Regions from separate parts of the Homo sapiens genome. Here region 2 is linked to region 1. The links come from fine-mapping of genetic effects on gene expression. Tissue or cell type: sigmoid colon. Region 1 holds a variant in brackets; the other region holds the start of a gene. All regions are shown on one strand. Distances are from middle to middle.

Region 1 (8,000 bases):
TTCCGGCTTTGGAAGGCTTGAGCAGGACGGGTGTGAAAACTGAAGCTGCTCGGCGTCCAGTGTGTTCCCAGGATATGTGCACGAGGGAGCGGCGGGGACAGGGCCGGGGCCAGCGGCTCATCGCTGACCCTGCATGGGGTGGTGTGGGAAGGAGAGGGGCCGGGCCCAGCCCCTCAAGTCATAAATACACGAGGCAGACTAACGCATGCGCGCGCCAGCTCACTCCTGGGGACTGCCTGTCTGGAGCAGCATGTGCGGCTGAGAGCTGAGCTGCAGGGCTCTGTGGATGGCACAGCTGTGCCAGGGGAGAGCCGTGGCATCTCTGAGAAGCGGGAGGGATGTGGGCTCCCCCGTGCAGCTGCAGGTTCAGGGCTCACTGGAGGAGGCCTGGAGGTCGGGCTCCGGGGATGTGCCCGGTCCCTCCCATGAGGCAACCCCTCCAGTGTCCTCTGAGGGAAGAGCCACATACCGGTTCCCCACTCAGCCACATACAGAATTTTTACTTTTAAAAACCCCATTTATTCTCACTGAGAATGAGGCACTGAACAGGGGGCCCAGTTACCACTGAAACAGACTCGCCCATCCATGATGGCCAGCGTAGAGGGCAAGTCACCCCCACTCTGACTCCCCGGGCCTGGCCTCAGCCTCTCCCGGGTCTGTTCCTCTCTTTCTGAGCACCCCATTCCTTCTATGGGTGCCCCTCATTTTTCCTGAGAGCCCCCCTGTTTCTCAGAGGGTCAGCACAAAGCTTTTGAGGGAGCTGTGGTGAGGGCTGAGAGGGCTTTCACCTGGGGTTGAGGGCCAGGGCCGGCAGAGCTGGGGGAGTGGGAGGGCCCCTCAGCTGGGTGCAGGTGGGGGCAGTGCTGGGCTGTGCTGGGGACACGCAGGTGGGTCCGGTCTGTGAGTCGATTCTAGCGTGGCCCAGCCTGAGCTGTGGCAGGTCCCGACCGGCTCTCACACCATGCCTTCATTGTCAGTGGAATTGAGTCGGCTACACGCTCTGCTGTGTGCAGGCATCGGGGGCTCAGTGACTCGCCAGACACAGCTGATCCATGCCCATGGCAGGTGGTTGGGTGGCTCGAAGAGCCAGGGAGAGAATGAGTCCCAGGAGAAGGGTGCACGTTTAGGTGGTGTGGGCAGAGTTGGTTCCTTGGGAGGTGAGCAGAAGGGGCGGTCTGGGAGGCATCCTGGCCGCAGAAGCAGCTTGTGAGGGGTCCTGAGGCAGGGAGGAAGGGAGGCCAGTGTGGCTGGGAGCGCAAGCTCTGGCAGCGTGGGGGAGACCCTGAGTGTGGGTTCCGTGGGTGGTGGTACTGGCCTTGGCTCTGGGGCTGCAGGGGTCGTGGCCTTCAGGGGTGTGGAGTGGGATGAGCAGAGGGTGACGGTGGCTGCTCTGTAGAGAGCAGAGGCAGGAGCACGGGGCTGAAAAGATGGGGCACAAGATGCAGAGGCCCCAGGGATGATGCCACACATGGACTGTGGCCAGCTGAAGTGGGCAAGACCCAGGGTAAGATCAGGGTAGGAGCAGGATGGGTTGGGTCTGCACGTCTGTGGGGGCTGCATAGGGGTGCTGGGGTGACTGGCAGTGTGAATGCTTCAGTCCCCAGCAGGTCCTCAGCCCTGCGTGCTGCCCCGGCCCCACATCCCTGGTTTCCTGGTTGGGCCAGGGCTAGGGTGCCTGGAAGGTGCCAGCCATGGCAGGACGGGCTCCCTGGGGTGTGGGTCACGCACAGGCACTGATACTGTCGTGAATGTGAGAATGATCATTTGTCATCTGAGGACACTGAGTGTTCACTTAGAGGTTTGAGCACTTGTGTATTTGTAGTCATTTCTCTTTGTATCCATGTTAATGACATGCCTGGCTCGGTTGCCAGGACACAGATGTGATTCTCACGTTAACGGCTCGCCGGCTCGGCTGCTGAGATGCCAGTGTGGTTCTCACGTTAATGGCTTGCCACCTCGGCTGCTGGGACGCCAATGTAGTTCTCATGTTAACGGCACGCCAGCTCAACTGCTGGGATGCCGATGTGGTTCTCACGTTAACGGCATGCCAGCTCAGCTGCTGGGATGCTGACGCGGTTGTTGCTTCGGTGACGCTTGGGCGTCTTGCCCCCTGGCCTCTGCTCTGTGTGTGACTTGACTGTGGGGCTGCTCCGAGCCCACCCCTGCCACTGGGTGGTGGTCCCACACACGGGGCTGAGGTGGGCATCCTCATACCTGCAGCCCTTTCTGCAGCAGCTGAAGGAAGGAAAGGTGGGAGCGGCACTCAGGGTGGGCTTAACTGGGACTGTGGCTGGAAAAGGCAGCGTGGCCTGGTGTGGTGGCGTCTGCAGTAACGTGGCCTGGGGTGTGGCGGAGTCCGTAGCATGGCCTGGGGCATGGCAGAGTTCAAAGTGTGGTGTGGCGTCTGTAATGTGGCCCAACGTGGCAGAGTCCGTGGCATGGCCTGGGGCGTGGCAGAGTCCGAAGCGTGGCCTGGTTTGGCGGAGTCCGTAACGTGGCCTGGGGCGTGGCGAAGTCCGTAGCATGGCCTGGGGCGTGGCGGAGTCCGTAGCGTGGCATGGGGCGTGGCGGAGTCCGTAGCGTGGCATGGGGCGTGGCGGAGTCCGTAGCATGGCATGGGGCGTGGCGGAGCCCCTAGCGTGGCGCGGCGTGGCAGAGTCTGTAGCGTGGCCTGGGGCCAGGGAGGGCAGAGCACTGATTGCTCCACGGTGATGATGTTAACCGTAGAGAGTCGTGACTGCAAGTTGTCCAGGTTCTTGGCATTTTGAACAAACTGGACAGAACGCCCAGCGAAACAAAGAAAGAATGAAGCAACAAAAGAACGAAAGCGGGAATTTATTGAAAACAAAAGTACACTCCACGGTGTGGGGGTGGCCCAAGCAGCGGCTCAAGGGCCCAGATGCAGAATCTTCTCGGGTCCAAATACCCCCTAGAGGTTTCCCACTGGCCACTTTGTGCTCACCTCATGTAAACGAAGTGGTAGCCCGCCATCAGCCTAATGGTTGCAGAAAGCAGCCAACCAGAAGGTCACACTCCTGTGCAAACATCTGATTGGTTACGAAAAGCAATCAGAAGACAGGGTGAAGTTACAGAGTTGCAAACGAAGAGGAGATCTGCAGTCAGGCAGTTTCCCATCTGCCAGGCAGAAAAGGTCAAAGGGAGTCACCTCTGGTCGTTTTGTTACTTAGGTGTGGAAAGTCAGGGTTTTCCTTTCCATTTAGTTCTGGGAAGTCCGCGTGAAACAGCCCTAGGTTCCCTGTCTCCGGACCCTGTTCTCCTGCCTCCATGTGAGTTTCATTCTCTTTTAGGGCAGCTGGTGGAATTTTTGAAGAAAATGGAATCTCGAGGCCCCCTTTCGTGCGACACGGTTCTGAAGATCTTCTACCAGACGTGCCGCGCCGTGCAGCACATGCACCGGCAGAAGCCGCCCATCATCCACAGGGACCTCAAGGTAGTGGCTCCCTCCACACGCGGCTGCCAAGGCCTCTGTGTGCGGGTCCCACTCGGTTAGGAGCCGCCCATCATCCACAGGGACCTCAAGGTAGCGGCTGCTGAGGCCTCTGTGTGCGGGTCCCGCTCGGTTAGGAGCCGCCCATCATCCACAGGGACCTCAAGGTAGCGGCTGCTGAGGCCTCTGTGTGCGGGTCCCGCTCGGTTAGGAGCCGCCCATCATCCACAGGGACCTCAAGGTAGTGGCTCCCTCCACACGCGGCTGCCAAGGCCTCTGTGTGCGGGTCCCGCTCGGTTAGGAGCCGCCCATCATCCACAGGGACCACAAGGTCGTGGCTCCCTCCACACGCGGCTGCCAAGGCCTCTGTGTGCGGGTCCCGCTCGGTTAGGAGCCGCCCATCATCCACAGGGACCACAAGGTAGTGGCTCCCTCCACACGCAGCTGCCAAGGCCTCTGTGTGCGGGTCCCACTCGGTTAGGAGCCGCCCATCATCCACAGGGACCACAAGGTAGTGGCTCCCTCCACACGCGGTTCACAGCCTCTGTGGGGGGCTCCCGCTCAGTTAGGATGCAGGGGTGAGAGCAGGTGAGGCTACACCATCTCACCTAGAAGATGTGCGTGAGCCTCTCAACAGTGGAAGCGGATCTTCCAGAAACGTTGCTTTTCCAGCCCTGAAGAAAATTAGCATCTGTCTCACAGGCCTTTGCCGACAGAGATCCCGGGATGGCCCCGCCTCCCTGCTGGGGGCCTTCACGCCCAG[T/C]TGGGGGTGCTCACAGCCTGGAGCTTCCGTCTGGAATACCAGGTCCCCATGCTGGATGCTTGCTCACTCCAGTTTCCGTGGGGAGCTGTGGACGAGGGTGCCCGCCGGTGGTGTCAGTTCAGGACCCTATTCCTGCTCACCCCACACTCCTTCCTCGGCCGCCCCCCCACCGCCCCCCGGTGGTGTCACTATAGGCCCCGCACTCCTGCTCACCCCACGCTCCTTCCTCAGTCCCCTGGTGGTGTCAGTTCAGGCCCCGCATTCCTGCTCATCCCACGCTCCTTCCTCAGCCCCCCAGTGGTGTTGGCCCAGGCCCCCAACTCCTGCTCACCCAGTGCCCCTTCCTTGGCCCCTGGGCAGTCCTGGACCCCACAGTGCCTCCCTGGTTCGGCCTCTTGGAGCTGGGAGGAAGCCTGGCGCTCCTCTGCCTGGCCCTGTCTCAGGCGCTGGGGTCGGGGGCCGGACCCCTTGCCTACTCAGCTTGAGGGGAGCTCTTTGCACTTCCTGACTGTCCCCCCACTGCACCTCCCCTTCCGTTCACCGGCAGACTCTCCTGCCCATCTCTCCTGTCACCACGGGTTTCTCCGAGGCGTGGCATCCCGGGGTTGGCGTGATGTGGGCATGAGCCACTGGCTGCATGTAAAAGGGCCGTCCTGCCCACCACACTGCCACACAGATGCTTCTAGACTGGGGCTGGGCTCGCGCTCCATCCCTGCCCACCACACCGCCACACAGGTGGTTCTGGGCCGGGGCTGGGCCTGCGCTCCGTGCTGCTGCCGGCACTGCGCGGTTTCCATGTGATGTGGCTGCTTCCCACAGCCCCACAGAGGACACTCCTGCCCCGTGGGCTGTCCATGCCCTGAGCTGCCTGTGTTGATTTTGGCTGGCCTGGTGGGGAGTATAGTCTGACGGGTTGTGATTTTGCCTTTTCCTGATGTTAATGAAGTTGAATGTTTGTTATAGTCATTCGGGTCTTGCTCTTCAGTAAACTTCCTTTTGTTTCTTGCCTTTTTCAAAGATTTTCCACTGGCTTGTGTGTTTGGTTCGTTGGAGCAGCTTGTGTATTCTCATAATCTGCTAAGTGTCGCCTGTGCTGCCGGCGTCTTCTGGTTTGTGGCCCAGTTTTCACTCCTGCTGTTGTGTTTTTTAAAAAACCTAGGACGTTGTGAGGCTTCTCCATTATCTGTGAAGCCTGTGCCTGGCCTGCCCATGGTGGGCCTCGTCCTCCGTGCTGAGGCTTTTGCTGAAGAGGTTTTTTGGGGTTTTTTTTTTTTTTTTTTGAGTCAGTCACTCTACAGCCCAGGCTGGAGTGCAGCGGCACTGACGGGGCTCACTGCCGCCTCGGCCGACTTGGCCCAGGTGATCTCCCACCTGAGCCTCCTGAGTAGCTGGGACCACAGGCGCACACCACGCCTGCCTAGTTTTTGTATTTTCAGTAGAAATGGGGTTTCACCATGTTGCCCAAGCTGGTCCAGAACTCCTGAGCTCGAGTGATCCACCCGCCTCAGCCTCTGAAAGGGGTCGATTCCAGGTGTGAGCCACCGCTCCCAGGCTGCCAAAGTTTTAAAGCCTTATCACTCCCAGATACTTTTGTCCATGTCTCTGGGGACGTGAGGACATTTCTGTTTTTTTTTTTTTTTTAGGCGGAGTCTTGCTCTGTTGCCCAGGCTGGAGTGCAGTGGCACGATCTCGGCTCATGCAGCCTCTGCCTCCTGGGTTCCAGCGATTCTCCTACCTCAGCCTCCCGAGTAGCTGGGATTACAGGCATATGCCACCACGCCGGGCTAATTTTTGTACTTTTAGTAGAGACAGGGTTTCACCATGTTGTCTAGGCTGGTTTCGAACTCCTGACCTCAAGTCACCCTCCCGCCTTGGCCTCCCACAGTGCTGGGATTACAGGCGTGAGACACCACGCCCGGCCAGGACATTTTTTATGTGGTTTTGACACCATTATCCGCAGTGAGGTGGGAGGAACCGAGCCTTGTCTCTTGCCCTCCTGTTCTCAGCCTTCCCTGGTTTTCCCAAAGTGTGGCTTCTCTCAGACCTCGCTAATCGGGAGCGGCGCCTCTGGCCACGGCTTGTGGAGGATGCCCTGTGCTGTCCTTGGCTCCCCGCCACTGCCCAGGCCAAGGGGACGAGGAGGCCAGTGAGGCCCCAGCCCCGTGGCGTCTCTTGTGGAGCACGGAGCTGTGTTTCAGATCCTGCTCCCAGCACCCGCCTCAGCTGCTCCTCCAGCTGCTGAAATCTACCTGGCCTGTGTCCAGAGGTTTCGTTCATCTGGAATTGACCTTGTGTGACCTGAGGTGGGAGCTGTATCCTTGTGTCTACCTGGCCCTGCACCCCGTGCATCAGCTCATGTCTGCCCATGCAGCCACCTGGGCCCCGCCTCCTCTCCAGCGTCTGCTCGTGGGTGCCTAGGAGGCCTCAGAGCCCCCCAGCTCTCCCCGTGTGCCCTAGGTGGGGGATCCAAGGCCGTGGCTCTCCACGTGTGCCCCGGGTGGGAGGCCCAAGGCCGTGGCTCTCCACGTGTGCCCTGGGTGGGGGATCCAAGGCCGTGGCTCTCCCCGTGTGCCCTGGGTGGGGGATCCAAGGCCGTGGCTCTCCCTGTGTGCCCTGGGTGGGGGTGCCTAAGCCGTGGGCACCCATGCTGAGCTGTTCTTAACTGCACAGGCTCATTCCGCCTCAGCCTGCCTCAGCCCACCCAGGGCCAAGGCTCTGGCAGGCAGCTTCCCTCTGTGTTTCTCTGGTTAGGGCTGCCTTTTCTCTACTTGGCTGTACACTCCTACTTTATAGCACAGGTGTCTTCACGTAGATTTTGAAAATGGGTAAGTGTGGCCTTTTTCGTTTGTCCCCTGAACTCAGAGGGCCTAGAATGCCAGGGTGTAAGGTGGCCGACTGGACAGATGCCCCATGGCAGAAGCCTGTGGGCACCGCCATAGAGCCTGCTCCTGAGCCCCAGGCCCTTTCGCTCCCATGGCCACCGCTGTGGAGCCTGCTCCTGAGCCATGCCCCAGGCCCTTTCACCCCTTCTCCTTCCTTTCCTCCCTCCCTCTCTTCCTTCTGTTTCTTCTTTCCTTGTATTTTACTTTTCTAAAAGTACATTCTGCCCAGCACACAGGGTTGCTTTTGAGGGAAGCTTCTTCAAGGTTGCAAGCAAGACCCCTGGTTTCCAGAAACCCATGCGCCTGAGGCCCCATTCTGACGGAAGGGGCTGCAGGGCTCCATGAGGGGCCAGTCCTGCCCGTGGAAGGTGCTGTTTGCTGTCTGGGTGGTTCTTCCTGAGGAGTCTCTGAGTGGTGGATTTTCTCATGACACCGAGACCCTCCTGGTTCGCATTTTTGAAGTGTGATGGGTCGTGTAGCGGGGCTTGAGTGTGTATTTTAAGGAGAACAGAAACAGAAGGGTTGAATTGGTGAAGAATCCGTGTCTGTGAGCCAGGCCTGCACTTCACAGCACTGGCCTTGCTGCTGCTCCACAGCGGCGTGGCGGGAACCCAGGCCAGCCCTGCAGCCCGCGTGTGTTCACCTGTGGCCTCCGCCGTGGGAGTCTGGACGGCTGTTTGCGGAGGGGCAGGCAGCACACGTGGCCCCACTCGCCTGCCCCGTGCGTCGTCCTGCTGTGCGCACAGCTTCGTCTCTGTTGGCTGTAGAATGGGAACGGGCACAGGTGGCCCCACTCGCCTGCCCTGTGCATCGTCCTGCTGTGCGCACAGCTTCGTCTCTGTTGGCTGTAGAATGGGAACGGGCACACGCGAGGGGATGGGCACTCCTGGGCCTTCAGTGGCCGTGT
Region 2 (8,000 bases), 70 kb before region 1:
TCAGGAGGCTAAGGCAGGAGAATCGCTTGAACCTGGGAGGCAGAGGTTGCAGTGAGCGGAGATCGCACCACTGCACTCCAGCCTGGGCAACAAGAGCAAGACTCCGTCTAAAAAAAAAAAAAGACATCCCCATTGGCTTCAGGCTGCCCGAAACCTGTGCAAGCTCCAGCCCTGTGCTTACTTGGTTCTCTGCCTTGTGGCAGAGGTTCCCAGAGCTGTGGGGAAAGCGCCCCCAACAAGCAGCTGGACCCACCTCACACGACACCCCCAGATCAGTCTTGGCTGGCTCACAGATGTAAATGTAAAACGTAAAAAGACTCCCCTCCCAATAGGGAAACCTATTTAAGACCTCAGGGGAGGCAGGTGCTTAAACAGGACATACGCCTTGTGGAAGGGAAGGCTTGGTCAGTCGGATGGCAGGAAAACTAGGACCCCCTAAGAGCCGTTGCATGGAGGGTCTAGGCACATGTGACATGCACCGGCCAGCCCCCTTGCTCAGAGATCCTGCATCTGCAAATACACCAGCTTGCTGAATGTGTTTAAGCCCCAGAATCAATACCCACCGTGCTTCCGCAGTTACTCATGCACACGCTCAGAGTGAAGAAGTCTAGGATCCGGTTGCATGGCCGGCTCCTCCGAGGCTGCGAGGCAGGACCGGTCCCATCCTCTCCCCAGCTCCCTGTGGCGGCCAGCAGCCCTCGGTGATCCTTGGCCTGAGAAAGCACCGCCCTGACCTCGGCCTTCATCTTCGCACGGCCTCTCCCTGCATGCCTGTCTCCAGATCCCCTTTCCATAAGGGCGCCTCATGCTGGGGTGAGGCCCGCCCTTGTGACCGCACCTTAACCTGATTTTCTCTGTAAAGACTCTGTCTCCAAACAAGTCTCATTCTGAGGTGCTGGGGGTTGGAATGTCAACATAGAATTTTGGGGGGACAGTTCTACCCATAAGTATGGTTAGACTTTAGACCCTGGTTTCCTCAGGGGAGTGGTGGGGGGAGAGGCCCTCACCAGAACCAAACATGCCAGTACCCCCATCTCTACTTCCCATCCTCCAGAGCAGTAAGAAACACGTTTCCTGTGGTTTAAGCCTCCAGTCTGTGGTCTTCTGTCACGGCAGCCCACGTTGACCAAGACAGACAGGAAAGGGAGTGGGAGACACAGGCCTGGAGACGTGGACGGGCCTGCACAGAAGAAGCTGTCCCTCTGGCAGACAAGCTCCGTTGTGGCGGGTGCCGTGGTCCAGGCTGGGATTCAAAGTTGTTGTTTTTTTTTTTTTTTTCCAAGGCAGAAGAATTTTTCTTAGTACAGAACAAAATGAAAAGTCTCCCATGTCTACTTCTATCCACACAGACCCGGCAACCATCCGATTTCTCAATTTTTTCCCCACCCTTCCCGCCTTTCTATTCCACAAAACCGCCATTGTCATCATGGCCCATCCCCAATGAGCCGCTGGACACACCTCCCAGACGGGGTCGTGGCCGGGCAGAGGGGCTCCTCACTTCCCAGTAGGGGCGGCTGGGCAGAAGCGCCCCTCACCTCCCGGATGGGGCGGCTGGCCGGGCAGAGGGGCTCCTCACTTCCCAGTAGGGGCGGCCGGGCAGAGGAGCCCCTCACCTCCCGGACGGGGCGGCTGCCGGGCGGAGACGCTCCTCACTTCCCAGACGGGGTGGCTGCTGGACGGAGGGGCTCCTCACTTCTCAGACAGGGCGGTTGCCAGGCAGAGGGTTTCCTCACTTCTCAGACGGGGCGGCCGGGCAGAGACGCTCCTCACCTCCCAGACAGGGTTGTGGCCAACAGAGGTGCTCCTCACATCCCAGACAGGGCGGCGGGGCAGAGGTGCTCCCCACATCTCAGACGATGGGCGGCCGGGCAGAGACGCTCCTCACTTCCTAGATGGGAAGGCGGCGGGGAAGAGGCGCTCCTCGCTTCCTAGATGGGATGGCGGCCGGGCAGAGACGCTCCTCACTTTCCAGACTGGGCAGCCAGGCACAGGGGCTCCTCATATCCCAGACGATGGGGGGCCAGGCAGAGACGCTCCTCACTTCCCAGACGGGGTGGCGGCTGGGCAGAGGCTGCAATCTCGGCACTTTGGGAGGCCAAGGCAGGCGGCTGGGAGGTGGAGGTTGTAGCGAGCCGAGATCACGCCACTTCACTCCAGCCTGGGCACCATTGAGCACTGAGTGAACGAGACTCCGTCTGCAATCCCGGCACCTCGGGAGGCCGAGGCTGGCGGATCACTCGCGGTTAGGAGCTGGAGACCAGCCCGGCCAACACAGCAAAACCCCATCTCCACCAAAAAAAACACGAAAACCAGTCAGGCGTGGCGGCGCGCACCTGCAATGGCAGGCACTCGGCAGGCTGAGGCAGGAGAATCAGGCAGGGAGGTTGCAGTGAGCCGAGATGGCGGCAGTACCGTCCAGCTTTGGCTCGGCATCAGAGGGAGACCGTGGAAGGAGACCGTGGAGGGAGAGGGAGAGGGAGAGGGAGAGGGAGAGCGGATTCAAAGTTTTAAGGCCCCTTCAGCGAGAAGCTGCTGGTGGCTTTGGAGGACGTTCTAGGAAGTCCGTGGAGTGTTTGCTGGAAGGATGCTTTGCCCGCCATTTTAATTAACGTGTGCGTCAGAAAGCAGAAAGTTCTGGCAGAAATGGTAGATGAGGGTTTTCCTTTTTAAGATGTTTTTGATGCTCTCCACTGTCTCCTAAATGGAGAAAGGTATGTCCTTAAACAGTTTTTCCTCAGAAGCCAGCTGCAGTTTGCACCGTGGTTCACTGCCATGAGCACCACGGGCTCAGTGAGCCACCTCCTCCTCATGGGCCACAAGGCTGGGTCCTAGCTCTCCCAGGGCCCAGGCACAGGGGGTCTTGGGGCCTGGCTGAGGGCAGGCTCGGGGTGGGGTCTGGCACAGGAGACAGGGAATGCAGGGGTGGTGACTCCGGGCCTCCCAGCATAGGTGGGCATCAGGAAAGGATTTCTGCGGAGCACCCTGCCACAGGGCCTCTGCTCCGGCTTTCCGCCTGGACGCCTTCCTGCTGCCCCCAGGCAGCCCTCATTCTTCAGGGTGCTGTCTGTCCCAGAGCGCAGCTCCTGGAGGGTGAAGGTTCCCTGAAGCTTTGGCTGCATTCCCTTTACCCTGGGGTCCACCCAGGGTCCTACCCCAGCAGCTCAACCAGCAGCTTCTGGACAAACAGAATCCTCCCTGGTTGAGGACTGCGTCTCCCCCCTCACCATCTCAGGGGCCTGCTCCTCCCTCCTCAGACTGGGTCCCCGGCTCACCCTCCATTCCTGGAATCCCCTGTGGTCTGGGTGCCCTCACCAGCACAGCCCCTAGGACAGGTCTCCCGGCTCCTTCCCTCCAGAGTCCACAGCCCCCAGCCCCTTTCAGGCGTCTCCCCACAGGCCCTTCCCTGCTCTTCCTGCCCCCTGAGACCGCCTGCTGCGATGGCCCTGGAGCCCTGCCCTCTGCAGGTCCCCGCTCGGTGGCCCGGGGTGGGGTCCCCCGCTTCGCAGACTCCTATCCACAGTTAGGCCCACGGGGGCAAGGACCCAGACTGCTGCCAGCGGCGGGGAGGGGTGACCCGCGTGGACGCGGCTCTCAAAGGACACCAGCGCCACCTGAACAAGACCCGTGGCGCGCACGAGGCAGGAGAGCTGGGCGCTCGGCGTGAGGCCCGGGTGGGGGTCGCGAGCGGACAGCCCCGGGCCGCAGGCGGGTCCCCCGTTGCAGTGAGGACAGCGGTCGGGCGCCGGGGGTCCTGGGCCTCGGGCAGGGCCAAGTCTGCGCGTGCGAAGACCCCACGGACGGAGCCGCCCAAGCACCGCAAACCCCGCTTTCCGGGACCCACTGTGGGAGGCCCGCAGCGCTGCCCCTCGCCGGGGGCGTCCTGCGCGGCCGGGGGCCTCGGACAGCATCCGCGTCTCGCGTGGGAGGCGCCTGTCTGCGCAGCCGCGGGCCGGGACCCCGCAGGTACAACGCCGCGCGTGCGGCGTCCGGAGAAGTCTGGCCCGGCTGCGGTCAAACCGAGCCCACGTGGACCAGTTCCCCACGGCTGGTTCGCGAGCGGCCTCCGCGCACAGGCCCCGCCCCTTAGCAGGCCCCGCCCCGCCCGATCACAGGGCCCGCCCCCAGCCCCGCTCATCGACGGGGCACGGCTGCGACCCTTAGCAGGCCCCGCCCCGCCAGCCCCCAGATCCGCCCACCAGCAGCGCCCCGCCCCGCCCCGCGGCCCGCGCCTGCGCAGTGGGGCAGGCGCAGTCGGAAGCAGTGTACCGGGCCGTGGAGCGGCGGCTCCTGTACCCCCGGCGCGGACCTAAAGGGGCTCGGGCCGCTCGGGCCGGGAATGGCGGCGGCGGCCGAGCCCGGGGCCCGCGCCTGGCTGGGCGGCGGCTCCCCGCGCCCCGGCAGCCCGGCCTGCAGCCCCGTGCTGGGCTCAGGAGGCCGCGCGCGCCCGGGGCCGGGGCCGGGGCCGGGACCCGAGCGGGCGGGCGTCAGAGCCCCGGGCCCCGCTGCCGCGCCGGGACACAGCTTCCGGAAGGTGACGCTCACCAAGCCCACCTTCTGCCACCTCTGCTCCGACTTCATCTGGGGGCTGGCCGGCTTCCTGTGCGACGGTGAGCGCCCGGGCCCGATGCCTACCCGGCTGCAGCCCTGCCTCTGCCCCGTGGGCGGGAGCCTGAGCGGAGGTGGCACCGGCGCTTTCGGGGGAGTGGAGGGCGGGGTCCCAGCCCTGCTCGCGGGACGTGCCTTCGTGGGGCGGCCGGGGCCTGTGCGCCGTGGGGCCGCTCCAGGCTGCGGGCTTCCTCACCTGGGAGGTGCGGACAGCATCTCCATAGTGCCGCGCGATGGCTGCGACCCAGGGGCTGTGCCTGATGCGAGCGGGACCTCAGCTGGGGTCCCCATGGCCGGCTTCCTCTCCCAGTGGCTGGGGCAGCAGGTGTGGCTAAGCAGGGCTGGCCTGGGCCCCTGGCCCTAGCCCTTCTCATGCTGTGGCCCAGAGTCCCAGCCTCCTGGAGAGCCAGGCCGGGCCCTGCCGTCCCGGTGCGCGTGTCCCAGCCCTGCTCCACCCAGCTGCCCAGCTCTTGCTGGGGTGAGGACAGCCCTTCCCTGTTCTGGGCCCGGGTGCTCCCAGGGCTGGCTCTCATCTTCCCCCGCGGCAAGCAGGCGGGCCCCGGGGACTACAGCCCAGCCTCTGGAGGGAGCGAGGGACAGGGGGACCACAGCCCAGCCTCTGGAGGGAGCGAGGGACAGGGGGACCACAGCCCAGCCTCTGGAGGGAGCGAGGGACAGGACCGGAGTTCTGGACGTTTGACACTTACTGTGTCCTGGCCAGGGACGCTGAGGTGGGAGGGGCTATCCTTAGCCTCAGGCCTTTCTCTGGGGATAGGGGTCCACTCAGGTCAGGGTCCGCAGAGGAGACTGTCCCCTCACACGGGGATGTCGTCTGTGGTGGAAACGGCATGGTTGTTCTGACCCCCAGGGCTGCACAAGGTGGCCTGGCCCGCCAGCTTCTTTGTCACGTCAGAGCATGGCACAGCCATGCCTGCTGCCTGGGGATGCCAGGGGCTTCCCCAGAGGTGGGGAGTGTGCATGTGTGGCTGAGGCAGCTCCCGACTTGAGGCCAGACTCCGGGTCCCCTCCCCCTTCGGAGGGGGCAAAAGGGCCCTCCTGGGCAGCACCCGTGGAAGAGGGGCCAGCAGCGGTATGGGAAGGAGGGCACCCTCCCCGCCAGGAGACCCAAGCGTGGGGCGTGGGGTGAGCAGGCCCTGTCTCCATGGCAGAGGAGGGACCTGGGTGCTGCCTGTCCCCCCTTCTCTCGGTGGACCCTGGCCTGCTTCCAGAGCTTTTCTCTTAAGCTGCCAGGAGAAGCTTCTCCCGGTCCCATCTGGAGACTGGGGTGGCTAGGGCTGCAGCAGGTGAAGGGCGGCACCAGCGGGGCCTTCTGGAAGAGCTCCCTGTCCCAGCTGGACTGCCTGGGGCTCCGTGGCACAACCTTCACCCGGGGCTGTCTTGGCAGTTGTGTCACTGGGTGCCCTGCCCACTCCCAGCCCCCGCAGCCTTTGCCCCAGCCCAGGGTTCCTGCCCTCCCTTCTGCCCCGGCCCCACCCTCCTGTCTGTTTTACTGCTGGGGTGTGGCGCTTGCTCCTCTTATGCCCTCCTGAGCACCCCGCCGGCTCAGGTGCTCCCTGGGTCCTATGCACACAGCCAGAGCTCCTTGGGAGGCTTGGGGCTGTCCACTCCCCAGCGGCTCCTGCCTCCCAGAGCCCTCACCTGCCTTGGGTGGCTCTCGGTCTCAGGCACGGTGCACAGCACGTAGCAGGGACAATTAGGGGTATGCGTAGTTTCGGGGGAGTGAGACACAGATGTCCTTGGTAAAGCCAATCTGCCGAAGGCCGAGAAGCCCCTGCCACCTGGCGAACCTGGTGAGCCCAGGGCTGCCCCTTGAGAGGCCCAACTGCAGAGGCAGGAGGAGTGCTGGGCCTACGTGCGAAGGGGAGGGACTGCTCTCTGGATGAGAGGATACACTCATTGTCCTCCAGGATGGTCAGGACCACCCAGGTTCTTGCTCCTGGGCTCCTGGGCTGCAGGCTCTCTCCAATGAGTGGGCAGGGTGGTGGGGGAACTCGAGGACCACAGGGCCCCTGGTGCAGCATGGTGGGTATGGCAGTCATTGCCCTGGGGCCTCTAACTTCCTGGGTAGGACAGCCATTGGGTAGGACAGGGGCCAACTCACACAGTGCTCATTCCCACAGTCTGCAATTTCATGTCTCATGAGAAGTGCCTGAAGCACGTGAGGATCCCGTGCACGAGTGTGGCACCCAGCCTGGTCCGGGTGAGTGTGGGGCTGGGTGTTGCACCTGCAAGAGGCTGGGGGATGTGTCAGCTCTCGTAGGGTCGAGGCACTGAAAACCTTCATGTCAGACGTTAGTGATACCTGCAGTTGAAAGGCAAAGGGCAGATACTGCTCGGGATTAAAAGGCTGAGCACCCTGCATGGATCTGCAGGGAATGATGGTGATAAAAGCCAGTCCCCGAGGTCGCAAATAGCAAGATCCTGTCCATAGAATGTGCTCAAAATGACGAAACTAAAGGGAGCACAGATGTAGAGAGGTTTCCAGGCGGAGAAGTGGGCGTGGCTGTGACATGCAGCGTGAGGGCTCCTGGGGGGGATGGAGATTTCGGCATCTGGCGTGACCTCAGTTTGCAAGATCACACACTTAGGGGAGCTGACAAAGGCTTCAGGGGGTCTGTTCAGTTTCCTCACAGCTATGTGTGAACCCACAAGCATCTCAAGGAAGCTTGAATAAAAAGCAAAGGCAGGAAGCCTGGGTGCCTGAGGGTGTCTTGGCCACCACCCTCCCTCTAAGGGCTCTGGGTGGGGCAGGGAGGTGACTGGCCCAGGTCACTGCAGGGCACAGGGGACTTCCCTTCTCTGGTGACAGTGGTGACAGCAGGGACATGTAGGAAGGGCCAGGCTTATTCCTCCCTCAGCTGTCAGCGTCGCCGTCTTCAGACTGAGGCCCCCCAAGTCCGCATTCCCTGATGCGTTCAGGCTGCAGGTGGGGCGCAGGCCGCGAGGCAGGCCCGGGTGTGCAGCAGGACGGGAAGCCAGGCCAGCAGGCACACCTGCCACTGGCGGGCATCCGGCTGCGCCGTCCCCTCTAATGTCTGACGCCCTGTTCCTAATGATGCAGTTCCCCGGGTGTGAGCAGGAGGCCTTAGGCCGGTGGTCCTGGTGGTGGCCGACACCCTGGTGATTCCACACTGGCTTGGGCGGCCCCTCGTCATGTGGACGGCCCGAGGCTGCCGCTTTTTAAAATTGATTTTAATGTCTTCTATACTTTGCTAAATTGGGAAAATATAAGTATGTATTTCAACTGTATGCATGATAGGAAATTTAGAAGATGTATTTAACGGCCGGGCGCTGTGGCTCACGCCCGTAATCCCAGCACTTTGGGAGGCCGAGGCAGGTAGATCATGAGGTCAGGAGATCGAGACCATCCTGGC

Evidence for each region. PIP is the estimated chance that this variant, and not a neighbour inherited with it, causes the effect.
Region 2: DGKQ starts here. The variant in region 1 is fine-mapped to the expression of DGKQ in sigmoid colon (GTEx, PIP 0.99).

Annotation. Positions count from the first base shown.
Region 1 is chr4:900,088-908,087 of GRCh38, reverse strand. It overlaps GAK (cyclin G associated kinase), which reads left to right. Exons shown (of 28, transcript NM_005255.4): 5 at 3,309-3,451. Among named protein-coding and RNA genes, the nearest start is that of GAK, 28 kb to the left of the region's middle. The variant T/C (reference allele first, on the strand shown) is at 4,212.
Region 2 is chr4:969,819-977,818 of GRCh38, reverse strand. DGKQ (diacylglycerol kinase theta) reads left to right here and starts at 4,250. Exons shown (of 23, transcript NM_001347.4): 1 at 4,250-4,607; 2 at 6,747-6,826. The coding sequence starts at 4,337. It overlaps LOC124900645 (a long non-coding RNA gene), which reads right to left. Exons shown (of 2, transcript XR_007057989.1): 2 at 7,878-8,000. RefSeq lists silencers at 3,982-4,321, 4,422-4,871 and enhancers at 5,106-5,746, 7,583-8,000.